Linked DNA regions of Homo sapiens. The protein of the gene in region 1 interacts with the protein of each later gene in a pairwise test. Each region holds a gene or a part of one and is shown in the gene's direction. Other genes may lie near its edges.

Region 1 (3,750 bases):
CGTTCTAGGTAGTCCTTGAAATTTAATACGTGCCCCCTTTAAAAAAAATGAACCAGAGGTTCATTTTAAATATCTAGATATCCATTATTATCATAAATAGCAGTAAAAGGTTTTCAAAACTTGGACATAACCTATTTGGCCATTCTCCAGTAAGACTGTTTCTCCGAAAATATGCATGCATGTCTCAACATAAATACAGTCATGCTCTGCCTAACAATGTTTTCGTCAATGACAGACCACACATACAACATGTTCCCATAAGATTATAATACCATATTTTTACTCTACTTTTTCTATGTTTAGATACACAAATACGTTATAATTGCCTGTAGTATTCAGTACAGTAACATGCTTTACAGGTTTGTAGCCTAGGACCAATAGGCTATAGCATATAGCTTAAGTGTGTAGTAGGCTCTACCATCTAGGTGTGTGTAAGTACAGTCTGACGTTTGCATAACCATGAAATCACCTAAGGATGCATTTCTCAGAACATATCCCTATCTTTAAGTGATGCATGACTATATATTTCTTTGGTGACTTCATCTTGGTGTTTGTACTTATGACAGTATTTTAGTCTAAAAGCAGTAACGGAAGTTTACTGCCAAAACTAACCTGTGCAAACTTCACACAATTTGTGCTCCACCTTTATAATTTTTCAGGTAACTTACGACCTATTTCTCCGTGGCGTTGGCTGTTTTCTGTTGTTGTTCCTGTTCTGATCGTCTCTAATGGCCTTAAAAAGAAAAGTCTAGATCACAGTGGGGCTCTAGGAGGTATGTTTTTATTTTGAATGTTTACAGTAACTACTAAGTGCTTGCTTATATAATTTAAATTTATGTTTTCTAAATTCTGAATATATGAGACTGACTACAAATCACAGTTATATATTTTAGACAATGATAAAGTTACATCTTGCTCAGCATTCCTATTGTCAAAATTTCAGAAACTAACGTACACTTTTAGTGTAACATACAAATTAAACTCTGTGATTGATACAAAGTAGATTAATAGGATAGATGAACCTTGACTATTCTGCTCCTTTAGTTTGATTAGTCTTCTACCAGCAGAAACACTGGAGCACTCCTCCTATATGTAAAATAGAGCATTTGGAGAGAATAACTTTTGGAAATTGCTGTTAGTAATCTCAAAACAGAGCAGTCCAAACTTAGTGTTCTGGATTAATTTTCCAAAACTGAGTTGAGAACAGGATATGCATTCATTCTTTTAGCAATTTTTTTTTTCCCGAGACAGTCTTGCTCTGTTGCCCAGGCTGGAGTGCAGTGGCATGATCGGCTCACTGCAACCTCCTCCTCCTGGATTCAAGCGATTCTTGTGCCTCAGCCTCTGAGTAGAGACTACAGGTGTGTGCCACCATGCCCAGCTAATTTTTTCTGGTATTTTTATTAGAGACAGGGTTTCGCCATGTTGACCAGGCCGGTCTCGAGCTCCTGGTCTCAAGTGATCACCTGCCTGGGCCTCCCAAAGTGCTGGGATTACAGGTATGAGCCACCATGCCTGACCCCTCTTTTAGCAAATTTTTATTGAACACTTACTGGTATGTACTACTGTTCTAAAAACTTGGGATAGATCTGTAAACAAAAAGAACGTGGTGTCAGTTCTCATGGAACTTATATTCTTTAGGGCAGATAGATAATAAATAAAATATATAAAACTGTTCAGGTAATGATGAAGTTTATGAGAAAAATGAAAAGATAATTGTAAAGTGTGTATGTTGGAAGATGTAGTGCATTCTTCTGTAAATGGTGTCAGGTGCTTTTCTCTACGGAGGTCATTTTGCACTGGTATCTGAAGAAGCTAGCAATGAGATCTGACAGAATCATGTTCCAGGCTGACAGAATAACAAGTGCAAAAGTCCAGATATTTTAGAGGCTTATTTGAGAGTAAGAATAATAGGGCTCATTTGACTAGAAAATAGTAACGATAGGAAAAGAAGTGAGAGATAAAATTGAATAAACTCTAGCAATGTGCTCTCGTGGTCCTATGGTTTTGTCAATTTTGCAAAGGTCAAAACTGTTGTACTCTTTTTCTTAAAGAGGGAACCCCAAATTATATAAACTTTGGGCTCCACAAGGCCTGGATCTCCCCCTTATTTCATTTTTAGGGCATAGAGAGAATTAAATGCGATAATTTAAAGTCCTTACCTCATTGCCTGGACACATAGCCAACATTTATTCAGTGCTTGTAACTATTATTATTAGGCAGAGTTCTTCAAAATCATGCCAATTCTCTTCATAATTAAGAAATACTGTTTAAGTTATATTGTGAGATTTCTTTTCCTTTTGTGGGGTAATTGAGAATTAAAGTTAACTAGACATACTGATATTTTTATATGAATTTTATTTTACCATATAATCAATAAGTATTAGGAGTGGTTATATTTTATCTATTTAACAAATGCTTATGTCACACTTTCTATGTACCAGGCACTGCTGTTAGCACTTTGGTAGTATTAAATCATTTATAACATAATTTGAACAATCTCTGCTTAAATATAATAACATGGACTTATGCTTTGCTAAAAAAAGTTCTTTCTGGGCTGGTCGCAGTGGCTCACACCTGTAATCCCAGCACTTTGGGAAGCCAAGGCAGAAGGATCACTCGAGTCCAGGAGTTTGAGACCAGCCTGGACAGCATAATGAGACTTCACCTCTACAAAAAAAAAAAAAAAAAAAAAAAAAAAAAAAAATTAGCCTGGCGTGGTAGTGCACACCTGTAGTCCCAACTACACAGGAGGCTGATCGTGCCACTTCAGTCAGCTTGGGCAACAGAGTGATACCCTGTGTCAAAAAGAAAAAAAAAAAAAGCTCTTAGATATCATTGCCTTGGAATTTATTATTCTTATAGAAAAAAAGGTCAAGTCCTTCTTGAAATTCTGTCTTCCTTGGGCTTCTGTGCTGTATATTGTCCTGCTTCTCTGACTTTTACGATCTCTACTGTTGTTTCTTTCCTGCTGCTAGAAGGGCTGCCTTGTAGCCCTTGGACATCTGCTCCTCTCCTATGTTGATTAGAATTAAAAGATATGAAACCTAACACTGCCACCTGTTACCAGTGCAAACTTGGGCATGCTGCCTAACTCCTAGGAGACTCACTTTCTTAATCTCTTATGAAATACCTCCAATAGTAATATCTTATGGACTTATTGGTAAATCTCAAACAAGATATTATATGAGGCAACACATCTTTGTAAACTATACAAAAATGTTCATTGTTAGTGATTATGTAGTTTCAACCATATTTTTATACGTGAATGACTATTAAATTGGCATTGCCACAAACATTTCTTTCTTTCTCCGTACCTCTGCTCACATTACTTCTCCCCCTCAACCTCTCTCCTACCTCATTATATATGCTGATTATTATTATTATCATCTGCATTAATAGAGAAGTATATAGAGAGGTTTGAAGGATGAAGAGACAGTTCTGGGCAGAAAACAATGAAAACTGCAGAAAACTGAAACTAACACTTGCAGAATAAAATTAAATGAAGTATTCTCACTTAAAAAGTTTCTGGTTCTAGGCTTCTTAGTGCTTAATGAAGTATTCTTATTGAATAGGATTCAAATCTCATGAAGTCATTTATTTGCTGCCAGCCCTTAGAGTTGGAAATGATCAAATGTAGTAGTAGATGGAAGCATGTCCTTAACTTACTTTCAGTAGTAACTGATAGTTCTAAAGTCAGGTAGCAAAAATATAATATGCATGTTTCTAAAAATTATCCTAGTGCTATAA
Region 2 (3,750 bases), on another chromosome or scaffold:
TTTTGGGTAGTGATGGACAGATCTGCATAGGGTCTCACAAGGGATTTTATAAGGTGGCAGTTCTTGTATGAAGTTACTGAGCCTCTTAATGGCCAAACTGACTTCAGTGCACAGCCAGGGGCTCAGTTACTTTGGCAGTTGATCTGACCTGAACCATCCATGCCTGCTTTCTTCCCTTTCCTTTCTTTCTTTTTCTCCTTCCTCCATTCATCTTCTCCAATTCTTCCTCCATCCCTTTCCCTTGCTTCCTTCCCCCTTGTCCCCTCCCTGAGCCTTGGGTCTGCCTGGCATGTTCCTGCTGCCCACACTGATTTGGTTGTGCTCTGAGGCAGACCCAGGTAGTTCTGAATTGTGCTTTTCAATCTTCTAGTGGTCTGGGCAGTGTGGCCCCAAATGAGCAGGAAGGGAGGGGTGCCCATCTTCTCTAATGAGTCTGGACCCAAGAAGGCAAGGAAGAAAGAAGGCAGAACAAGGATAGACTTATGAAAAAGGCATTATAGCAACGAGCCACAGGTTGCTGTGGGGCCCAGAAGGGAAGGGTTCTTTTGGGGATGGGTCTGTGTGCATGGGGAGGAGCATCCTGTTTATTTGGTTCAAGCTACTTCACAAGGACATGCCCTGTTAATTCACAGTGCTTTTCCCGAAAGCCTACTAGAACTAGGCCTGGTGAGAGGCCCTGAGAAGGTGTATCCTTTTGTCCAAGAGCATCTGGGAGAAGAGGCCTGCCTGACCCAAGCTGCAGCAAAGACACAAGTCTGTAGGTCCAGATGTGGACTCTACCACTGATTTACAAGTAGGAGTTCCTTAACACTTATGGAGGACCTCTGAGACCGACACGGTGCAAGGCCCTGGGGTACAAAGATAAAAAGCCAGAGTCCTCCCCATCAAGGCGCCACGGGCCCTGTAAACACATAAACCGAGGACACACTGCATGAGAGATCACCAATAAACGATGTAGCCATACAGTGCACAAACTGCTCACTCAGTATGTGCTAGAAAATAGCCCCAGAAGGCAAGGCTCAAGAGGGGAAATACAGTTAGGAATGTGGCAGGCTTCTAGCCCGGGCTCTGCCAGTCCTGGCTCTGAACTGCGGTTTTCTCAACCTTGAGATCCCTTGTGTGCTTTTAGTATGCTGAAGGATCACTCACTTCAGAATGCTAGTGAAAATACAGATTCCCAAGTCCGACCCCACTGAATCACAATGGCTGGAGGTCATTCGGGGCCCCGAATCTGCATTTTCACCCCCACCCACCCCCCGGGCAGCTTTAATGTTGGCAGGCTAGGAACCACAGTTCGGATTACTGCTTAACAGGGAGATAATAACCTGCTTCAGACGAGCTAGGTCAGACGAGCAATTCAAGAGCTAACAAGGCAACATGCGCCAAAAGCCTTGTAAACCTCAGGGCAGTACAATTCTTTGCAAATAATAGTAATTCAATCATGCAAATAATAATAATAGTAAACGAACTGGAGAGCGCACTGGAAACGCCGCATAGTCCAGCTGAGTCGGTGCCACCGCCCCATCCACTCCAGCGCAGAGGGACTGTCTCTTTAAGGACCCCCCACCTCCCCAACCGCGTCGCTTCTCCCTTGGGTACCTGGCCCGGCCGGCGGCGCGTGCGTGCAGGGCCTCCCGGCGGGGCGGTCGCGGCGGCGCGACGCCGGCGCCGTTGCGTGCGCGCCTGGCCCTGCCCCTTTCCCGCCCCTTCCCCGCCCCCTCCCCTCCGCGGGGCCTCCCCCGCCCGCGCGGTACAGCTGGGTCAGTGACGCGGGCGCTGCAGCCGTCGCTACCGCCGCGTTCTATTCTCCGAAGCCGGCGACCGCCCCACCTCCTCCCTCCCTCCCGCCCGCTTCCTCTGCCCACAGCGCCGGCCAGAGCGAGCTAGACAAGGGCACGCGGGGCCTCGCCTAGACCCGAGAAGACTGCGGGCGCGCGCAAGCGGCGGCGTGGAAGCTGTGAGCGCCCCCATCCCGGAGGTCTCCGCCGGCTCCCGGGTGAGTTGTCACCGCGGCCCGGGGGCGGCGGGGCCGGCATTGTGCCATCGACGCGCTCGGCCGGCTGTCAGGGGCGCGGGACCAGCGCGCACCGCCCAGGAGTGACGCTGGCCGGAGCCCGGGCCGGCTTCGGCGGCTCCCCGCGCTTCTCTGCGCCGGCCCGCTGTCACCCGGCCGCGAGCCGCGCCGCTGGGAGCCCCGCGCTGGCGTGGCGCGGCCAGCCGGCCAGCAGTGGGGGCTGCGCGGCCGGGGGGACCGGCGGCTGGTTTGCGGCCGGGAACTTGGTGACCCGCGGTCCGGGGCGCGCCGTCCCGCGTCGCTGCCCGGGCAGCACCGGAAGAGCCAGACGCCGTGCCGATGGGTGCAGAGGAGGTAGGCAGAGGCCCTCTGTGCCACTGTCATTACTGCCCTCAGCCCAGCAAAGCTGCGGGGCTTGCGCTGGGGCAGGGCTGGCTTAGAGAAGGTGGATTTCCTGAGGAAATCTCAGAGCCCGCCTGTGCGCACCGCGGCATTCGGGAGCCCCCGCGCCTCGGCTGCTCTTTAATCTCAAAAACTTCTCTTATTAACCAGGCTAAACTCCCCGAAACCAGCTATTTTCTTTCAAAAAGTAGGCACGTACATACAGACTTTCCTTTTTTCGCTTGGTTTTGAGACCCCAGCTATGAGTGTGGATCTGACTCTCCCTCATGGGAGTCGTGGCTGGGGAGCTGCTGAAGTGGAGAAAAGTTACCCTGGACGAATTTAGGAGCAGGAGGGGGAGGTGGTTATGGGGACAGCAAGACCCAGGAGCAAAGAGGCGTCAAAATAAAGTCTTGGGCTGGTTAAAGGGAAGTTGGCGTCTGGGCAAGGAGGCCTAAAGCTGTTGTTCCCACAGAATTTTCTTTCAGTGGCAGGCGACATGCTGGGCTTTGTTGCTCTCGCTAACTGGGCTCCTGTGTGCTCTTCCAGAGGTGCAGTAAGATTACTCAGTTCAATTAGGCCTAGGGATTTACTCCCTTTTTTGATCTACAGAGATGGGAAGTATGTCTTTCCTTCACAGTAGTTAATTCATTTCTTGCTGTTTTCGTTCCTCTGGTGTAAAAACATACATAGGAGTTACGCACACACACCTTTTCTGTTTTGGGAATTCCACACCCAAACTGTCACCATCTAGTGGAGGCTAGTAGAGACATGTGCTTGGCACTGACTTCTGAGTTCTCTGGGTTTTGTGTTTTTAGCTAGAAGCATATTCAACCAGAAATTAAAATTTTCCTGGAGTTGGGGGAGGTATGTCTACATCTCAGGAAAGAAGGTATTTAAGCAGCAATAATATGGAAAGGTTCTTGAGGACTTACTGAGTACCAACCTTTGTGCTAAGGGCTTTACTTTTTTGAACTCATTTAATAACAGACTTTTGATGTAGATATTATTATCCCCATTCTTCTAGTTGAGACCCAAACCAAACAAGTTAAATAACTCGCCCATGTCACATAGGTATCTCATGGTGGAGCCCACAGTCTGAACTACTAGATTATACTGCTAGTTTCTGGTTTGTTTACCTTTTGATAAAATTGAACCTGGAGTCTTTCTAAAACCTTCTGAAAGCACTGCTGCTTCAGGCTGTTTCTCAGATCATGAGCATTCTAAACTCTTTCTCCTGGGTACACACTTACGGTATGTTTGCATAAGATTCATTTGTTCATTCTTTCATTCAGTACTCCCAAGTAGTTATGTGATACCGAATGTATGCCAGGCACTGTGCTAGGTATTGCAGG

Evidence for each region. The genes of interacting proteins can lie anywhere in the genome.
Region 2: the proteins of TMEM19 (region 1) and SUSD6 interact in binary tests that used the Homo sapiens proteins (3 or more experiments, as listed by UniProt).

Annotation. Positions count from the first base shown.
Region 1 is NC_000012.12:71,688,932-71,692,681, forward strand, and holds part of TMEM19 (transmembrane protein 19), read left to right. Parts: intron 1-659; coding exon 660-773; intron 774-3,750.
Region 2 is NC_000014.9:69,609,833-69,613,582, forward strand, and holds the start of SUSD6 (sushi domain-containing protein 6 precursor), read left to right. Parts: upstream 1-1,763; 5' UTR 1,764-1,996; intron 1,997-3,750. UniProt on the Homo sapiens protein: May play a role in growth-suppressive activity and cell death. May be involved in the production of chemokine molecules in umbilical vein endothelial cells (HUVECs) cultured in THP1 monocyte LPS-induced medium. Plays a role in preventing tumor onset.